Homo sapiens: one gene and its partner. The protein of the gene in region 1 purifies or fractionates together with the protein of each later gene. This does not show direct contact. Each region holds a gene or a part of one and is shown on either strand. Other genes may lie near its edges.

Region 1 (4,259 bases):
CTGAGACACCCCCCGCCCATCCCAGCACCATTCAGGCCAGTTAGCAGGAGGTCCCAGTAATGAGGATCCTCTGATCCCTCCAGAGAAGCTGCCCTTTCCATGCTCATGGAGCGGTCCCGGTTCTCTGTTTCCATGGTGACTAGAGTTCCAAGAGCAGGATGCTGCCAGCTCGTCCCCCTCCTCCCCCAATCAGAGGGAAGCCTGCTTCTGCTCCAGGGGCAGGAGATAGGGTCCTCCAAAGCTGAGCCAATCAGGAGCCCAACTGGAGTTCCCAACCCCACCATGGGGTGAATCCCAGGAGGCTGGCACAGTGAGGATGGGGCTGGTTGGGAGATGGAAGAAAGCAATCAAATAGCTGGGGCAGGGCTGGAAGCTGAATGAGTTGCTTCATACTTCTTCCTGGGTGTAAGCCTCCCACTCCTGAATCTCCCACTCCCTACCCCAGGGGCATGCAGGAACACACAGCTGAGTTTGTCAGACCTGCATGCTCGCCTTTAGGGACTCACAGCAGGGGCTGGGAGACTCAAGACTGCCCAAGCCAAGACTCTTCAGGACAGAGAGAGACAATAGGAATCTGGGGTCCAGCTTCATCATTGTGCAGATTAGGAAACCAAGTTTCAGGAAGAAGGGATGAGCCCAAGGTCAAACAGCAAGTTAAAGGCACAGCAAGACTTGGACCTAGATCCCCTGACTCTAAGTCCAGTGTTCATCTCTGAGCAATGCTGCTCCTTTGCGGAAATCTGGCATTTTCTCATTCCCGCCCAATTCTGCTTGAGAAAAGGGAAAGGACCCTGAGAGGAGGTAGCAACCTAGAACCAACCCTCTGCCCTGTTGGCTCTAGGTTGCCTAGCCTGCCAGCAGGTAAGCAGTGAGTCTCACCCCTCTGTGCCTCAGTTGCCTTATTTATAAAGTGGGGCTACTAAGACCTAGCCCCTGGAAGTGTTAAAGGATTAAATGAGATAAAGCTTGCTAACCCCCCAGCCCAGCACCCAGCAAGAGGGACAGGGCCTCTTGTGGGGAGGGAGGGCAGAGAGGGAAGAGAAGGAGAGTGGAAAAGAATGGAAACAGGACCCAAGAGACTCACAAATGGTCTCAAGAAGTCACTCATGTCAGTGAATAAAAAAGACATACCAGCTGGGCGCAGTGACTCACACCTGTAATCCCAGCACTTTGGGAGGCCGAGGCGGGCGGATCACGAGGTCAGAAGATCAAGACCATCCTGGCTAACACGGTGAAACCCCGTCTCTACTAAAAATACAAAACATTAGCCAGGCGTGGTGGCGGGCGCCTATAGTCCCAGCTACTCGGGAGGCTGAGGCAGGAGAATGGCGTGAACCCGGGAGGCAGAGCTTGCAGTGAGCCGAGATCACACCACTGCACTCCAACCTGGGTGACAGAGCGAGACTCCGTCTCAAAAAAAAAAAACAAGAAAAAGAAAAAAGACACACCACAGTGGTTCCAAGCCCAGCTGCCCCAGAGCAGAGAACTTGAATGAATGAGTGTGTGTGTGAGTGAGTGTGAGTGTGAATGTGTGTGTATGTAGGGAGGTTGATAACACCAGCCCCTGAGAACAGTCTTCTCACATCTACCAGCCCTTTAGCATTCTTCCCCACACCTCACACACCCAGTGGGGCCTGTTTTGGTGCCTCCAGGCTAGGGCTTAGCCAGAGGAGGTTCAGGTTAGAGAATGAACTTGTCCAAAGTCACCAGGCAAGTGGCAGCGGCAGAAATAGTATTCAGGAGATCTGACTCCTTAGTTAGGACTGGTACAAGCCAGAAAACGTCCCCCAGTATTCCCCCTCCCCATATCCTGACAGCTTGGCTGAGAGGTCCAATCCCACAAGGCAAGGTAGGGAGAGCCTGAGGTCTGGGCCCACAGCCACTCTCCCATACCAGCTTCCATCTTCATTGATCATATCCTCCTGCCTCCGATAGCCCCCTCCCTGTCTTTGCCTCCCTTCAGCCCTGCTGAGGGGCAGCCTGGGGTCTCAGCAGGCAAGCTAAGGGGGCGGGGAGGGAGCAGGCAGGAAAGAGGAGAGTCTTCCCGCAGGCTCAGGGAGCCGGCTTCAGTATGGATGACCGCCTCCCACTCCCCACCCCTCAGATGAGTCCAGCTCAACGCTCAGGTATTCCAATACCCCCCACACCCGGCAATCAGCTCCTGGCGGGGAGCAGCAGGGTGGAATTGGGGAAGAGGTGGGTGCCTGGCCCCGGCCGCCCCTACCCCGCGCCTCCGGGGACTGCAGACACCTGTTCATAGGCCTGGCCCAGTGAACCAGGACTCCCCTCATACTACATCCCGAACCCCAGATGGCAGGGGCAGAGGTGGGGGCGCAGACCGTGACCCTGACCCTCCCTGTTATCCAGCTGAGTCGGGCCTTCCCCAGAGCCCGAAGCTGGTCTGGGTGCATCCTCAGACCTTCCCCAGGGGCCTCGTTGGGGGCGGGTCTCTCCAACCCTCCTCCAGGTGCACCCCCAGCGCCCCCGCCCTCGTGCCCTACCTTGCGGAGGTGAGCTCCCTGGAGCTTCTTCATCTTGGAGAGCGGGTGGCCGGGGCTCAGCTGCCCCGGAGCGCAGAGAGCGAGGGCACGAGAGATGGTCCGCTGGCCACTGCGCCTTTGCCCCCGCGGCTCCCGCGCACCGGCTGGGGCGGGCACGGACGCAGGCGCTGCCGTCTGGCGGCTGCGGGCGTGGAGCGCGGGCAGGGCGCTGCGAATGCCTTGTCTGTCCCTGCGCAGCGCCCGAGGCTGGGGAAGGGTGCACTGCTGCGCCCGCATAGACACCCAGACAGACAGCTGACGGACGGACGGCGGGGGGATGCGCGCGCCCCCGCACGCAGAGCTGCGGATTGGAGAGCCCTGAGCGAGTGGGGAGGGGGGTTCGCGACGGAAACCCTCGGCTTTCTGCGTGACCTTGGGCAAGCGACCTGCCCTCTCTGGGACTCCCTTTCCACAGTTGGGCAAGGAACACTAACAGCCCACCCCCCTGCGTCGTCTTTGCTGTGCGACCTTAGGGGATAAGAATCTCTCCTCTCTTACAGGAGTGTGAGCAATTCAGGAAGATGGAGCATAGAAAACATCTAGCACAAAGAGCCTGACACATAGTAGGTGCTCAGTTAACATTTATTCACTGACTGTGGGTTGCCCACGCCACCATTAGTCCAATTATTCAATCTATCAGTATTTATTGAGCACCTAAAATGTGCCAGGTCCTGAACTAGGTGTCCTATTTTCTCAACCTGGAGAGACAGGTGTCGTTACTCCTATTCTACAGATGAGGAAGCTGAGGGACAGGGAAGTTAAGTTACTTACTCAAAGTCACGGGGCTAATGAGTGACACCAGGGACAGAGTCAGGCTTCATGGACCTTTAGGCTAGTAGAGTCTTCAACTCTCCTCCTTTCCTTAAGATGAAAGCAAAATGGGGAGGTTTGGGTGAGCAGAAGGGACAGGCAAGTGCCACAGTGTCACTGTGATCTGTGACTTAGATGATTAGTAACTGGTTTCCTGTCCAGCAGCAGTATGGCTTCTGGAAAGTTCTAATTTCATATCTGTAAAATGGGCCACGAGCCGCCCATGCATTGTTGCCTCAGAATGTTCTGAGGGTCCAGTGAGCCTGTGGCTAGGATGGGAAATGATGAGCTGGAGCAATGGCACACGTTGGTTTGCTGGGACTGACTGATAGACACTAGCGGATCAGTATATACATTACAAATTGTGTCCTTTTCACCCTCGCAAGTGTCCCAGTTTAGACATTAACCATACATCTGTTTGGCTCACTATCAGTTGACACGGTGGGAGGCCTTTGGGGAGAGATGAGAATAAGGTTCTGCTCTCTCCCACCTCTGGAGCTTGAAAAAAGGTTGGAGGGGTTTAAGTCAAAGCATGGACTTGGGTAAAGGCCTGGCCAGGCTCCAGTCCACCCCTTCCCCTGCCCAGGTCCTGTCAAACTTCTCTCCCCTTTGAGCCTGGCCACAAAGGGCAAACCAGGGGCTCTCCAGACCCAGGAGGAAGGTGTCTCCTCTGCCCCCTGCCTGCTGACCCATATGGGGCCAAGAGTGGCTGTGAGTGTGAAGAGAAGGAGCATTTATGGAGCCCTACTGTGTGCATTATGAAGGATTTTTGCATCCAACATCTAATTTTTAATTCTTTCCAACTGTCTGGGAAGACATGTTTGTGCATCTCATTTTACACCTGTGGAAACTGTCCCAGAGGAGTGAAGTCATGCACTGGGCGTTGGGGATGAAGCCAGGAAAGCTGTG
Region 2 (3,500 bases), on another chromosome or scaffold:
AGGTTAGAGCATGTCTCAAATGACAAAGGTCCTGGGGAAGGGGGGACTTCAGTGGACACTCCTGAAAACCCAGAGGCTTTGCGGGGATTCTGAGACACTATTTTCATTTCAAAAAGGCCAAATTGCTTAGACTTCCCTATGGCAGGGGCAAGGGGAGACAGATGGAGACAGGCAGGGGAGAGAGAGGAATCACTGAGTCAGTGTTCCACTGCGCATGTGGTCACTCAGAAAATGCCTCCTGAGTACCCTCTCTCTGTTGGCAATTGTACTGGGTGTTGGAGCTACAAACTGAAGTGAAGACAGGGCCCATGCTTTTAAGGACCTAGCAGTATGATTGGACGAACACAGTGTTCCCCAGGCTTCCATCCTTGGCTGAAATTTCTCCAAAACTGCATTATGAATATCATTTGTATTTCAGCAATACAGTATCCTGAACATAGTCTTTAGTTTTTTTATTTTTTATTTTTTTTGAGATGGAGTCTTGCTCTGTCGCCCAGGCTGGAGTACAGTGGTGCAATCTTGGCTCACTGCAATCTCCGCCTCCCAGGTTCAAGTGATTCTCCTGCCTCAGCCCCCCAAGTAGCTGGCATTACAGGTGCCCACCACCACGCCTGGCTAATTTTTGTATTTTTAGTACAGACAGGGTTTCGCCATGTTGGTCAGGCTGGTTTTGAACTCGTGACCTCAAGTGATCTGCCCTCCTAGGCCTCCCAAAGTGCTGGCATTACAGGCGTGCGCCACTGAGCCCAGCCTCTGAACGTAGTCTTTTAAAAAACCACGTGAGGTCACAGTTCAAACTCAACCCAGTGCTGGTAATTTGACATATTTGTTTAGAATCTTGGATTCTCTCTCTCTCCTAATTTACCAAAACAAGCAAATAAATGGACAGGAAAACAAATTAAAGGAGGCCTTTTTCCTCTTCTTTCACTCTCATTCTTTAAGGACAGGAATATAGCCCTATTTGCCAGTTTCACAACTTAACCTCTAACTTAATGACCTAACCACACAAATTACTAACTTGCTGTGAGGCTCCTGGAAAGCTGCTCAAGACCTCTGGGTCTCAGTCTCCTCACCAGATAGACAAGGAAGCTAAATGAAATGACCTCTGAATTCTTTTCCAAGACTAACACTTAAGGATCTAGGGAAGAGGGAATTTCACAGTCTTCCTCTTGCTCTACACCAGATGTGTACTGTGACCTGACTTGACTACAGTACATGGCAATTTTTAGTGATGCTTATAATAAAAATAGGGCTAATATTATTGGTGCCATGTGCTTTGCTGAGCAGGCCCTAAGCTTGATACGTGCCAATACTGTGACTGGCCACTGAAAAAAATGAGCATTTCAGACTGTCCTGTGAGTCTCCGTATGAGGGAGTCTGTGCACACTGTGCAGCAGCCAGACAACTCACAGCCAATAATGCCACATCCAGCCACAGGGGTGTATTCTGGGTTGTGTGGATGGGGGATGGGAAGTAGAGACTCCAGGGTAAGAGAGACGCCCTGAGGTCAGAGACAGGAAGATGTTCTATATAACAGGAGAGAAAGCCTGGTACCAGGAAATAGGTTACACTCTGGCTTCTCTGGCTGAGTGACTTCACCACCACCAGCCTTGCTCTCCTCCTCTGTGTAATAAGGACACCAATTCCTACCATGCCTCCAGTGTGAGGGGCACCAAATGAGGTAATTGGTGAGCCATGTGTGAAAGCTGCTCTACAAAGAGCTTTACAAACCAAACTATTCTACAAATATTGTGTTATTATCCTATATAAAAAACAGAGACCTGTGAAGTTCATGGCCCGGGGAAAAAAATATTTAAAAGAGACCATGGTATCTTCAAATACATTAAAACAAAAGGTTGATGTGAATAAGAATATCAGAGTGATTCTACATGGCCTCAAAGCCAACGCCGGGGCTAAGGAGGCATCAGAGCCTTAGCATCTGACCAGGGCTAGTAAACGTCTGTGCCAACCTCTAAGATCCCGTGAAGCTCTGTCTCTCAATAAGATAATTCACAGGCCCAACTCTCAGCTTTAGAAAGTATCATCATAACTAGAGGATGGGGCTGGGTGTGGTGGCTCACACCTGTAAATCCCAGCACTTTGGGAGGCCGAGGCGGGCGGATCACTTGAGGTCAAGAGGTCGAGACAGGCCTGGCCAATGTGGCAAAACTAGTCTCTCCTAAAACACAAAAACTAGCTGGGCATGGTGGCACACGCATGTAGTCTCCAGCTACTTGGTAGGCTAAGGCAGGAGAATTGCTTGAACCCGGGAGGCAGAGATTGCAGTGAACCAAGATGGTGCCATTGCACTCCAGCCTGGGCGACAGAGTGAGACTCTGTCTCAAAAAAATAAAAATAAAAAAATACCTAAAGGGTGGGCAAGCTGTGACCCTGGGCAGGTGGGAGCCAATGGCACTGCTGTGTTGCCAGTGCTCCTGAGGACTGCTCACAGGGGATTGCCTTCTGCCAAGTCCAAACCAGGAAGCTATCACACCCCATCCGGAATGTCTTCTGCTGTCCTAGGCACCATGTCCACGGACAAAGATTCTGCTTCCAGGCAGGGCCTGGCTCCACGAAGCTGAAGTCATGTTCCCAGAGCCTGTGTCTGAATCCCTGACTCAAAGAGAGAAACAGCCATCTCATATTTTGTGGTTTCTTTGAGCCAAAGGTATTTAAAAGGCAGAGAAAGCCAAGACAATCAATTTGGGGTCCACTCCCCTTGAAGTTCCCCTTTGTTCCTGGGAGAGGATGAATTAAGGACTTGTACTCTCTCTAGCTCAAGACTTTCCCATGACCTCTTCCACTCTAATTCCCCTTCACATCACGGGGGGACCCTAAGCTACTCTTGGATTTTTTCCTAGCCCGAATATTATAGAAGAAAGCAGTATCTATCCCCTACTAGGTAGATGGGAAAGAAACAGAGTGCCCTGTCCTACCCCAAAACAGTACCTTCTTAAGGTTCTTCCTGAGAGGGGTTATCCAATGACTCCCAATTAATAACACACATCTTTGCAATGAGACTTTGTAGCTCCTCCCATCAAGAGATGAAATCTAATTCTCCACTCCTTGAATCTGAGCTACCTTTGTGAGTTGCTACACAAGACAATGCAGAAGTGATGATGTGCCATTTCCAAGGCTAGGCATCAAGATACCTTGCACGCTTCCATTCTCTCAGGATTCTGCTCAAGGCTAGCCTGCAGGAAAACAGGAGCCCATGCAGAAGAGAGCCAGATCAGCTCAGTGTCCTAGCTGAAGTCCCAAAGTGAGAGAGCCAGACAAGACCAGCAAAGGTGATAAACAGCTGATGACAAACTTGAAGGAGTTCAGCTGAGACCAGAACCACCCAGCTGACTGCAGCCTAAATTGCCAAACTACAGAATCATGAGCTAAATAAATGGCTACCGTTTTAATCCAGTGCTTTCAAACTTGAACCAGCATGGAATCACCATGAGGGCTTGTTAAAACAGAGACTGTTAAGCCCACCCTAGAGTTCTGAATCC

Evidence for each region. Proteins that work in one complex are often made in the same cells at the same time.
Region 2: the proteins of SLC6A7 (region 1) and PODXL2 purify together in Homo sapiens (affinity purification with mass spectrometry; one large-scale study listed by BioGRID and IntAct). This does not show direct contact.

What each region holds. Positions count from the first base shown.
Region 1 is NC_000005.10:150,188,603-150,192,861, reverse strand, and holds the start of SLC6A7 (sodium-dependent proline transporter), read right to left. Parts: upstream 2,801-4,259; 5' UTR 2,778-2,800; coding exon of another isoform or gene 2,535-2,777; coding exon 2,502-2,534; intron 1-2,501. UniProt on the Homo sapiens protein: Brain specific sodium (and chloride)-dependent proline transporter. Terminates the action of proline by its high affinity sodium-dependent reuptake into presynaptic terminals.
Region 2 is NC_000003.12:127,635,685-127,639,184, reverse strand, and holds part of PODXL2 (podocalyxin-like protein 2 precursor), read right to left. Parts: intron 1-3,500. UniProt on the Homo sapiens protein: Acts as a ligand for vascular selectins. Mediates rapid rolling of leukocytes over vascular surfaces through high affinity divalent cation-dependent interactions with E-, P- and L-selectins.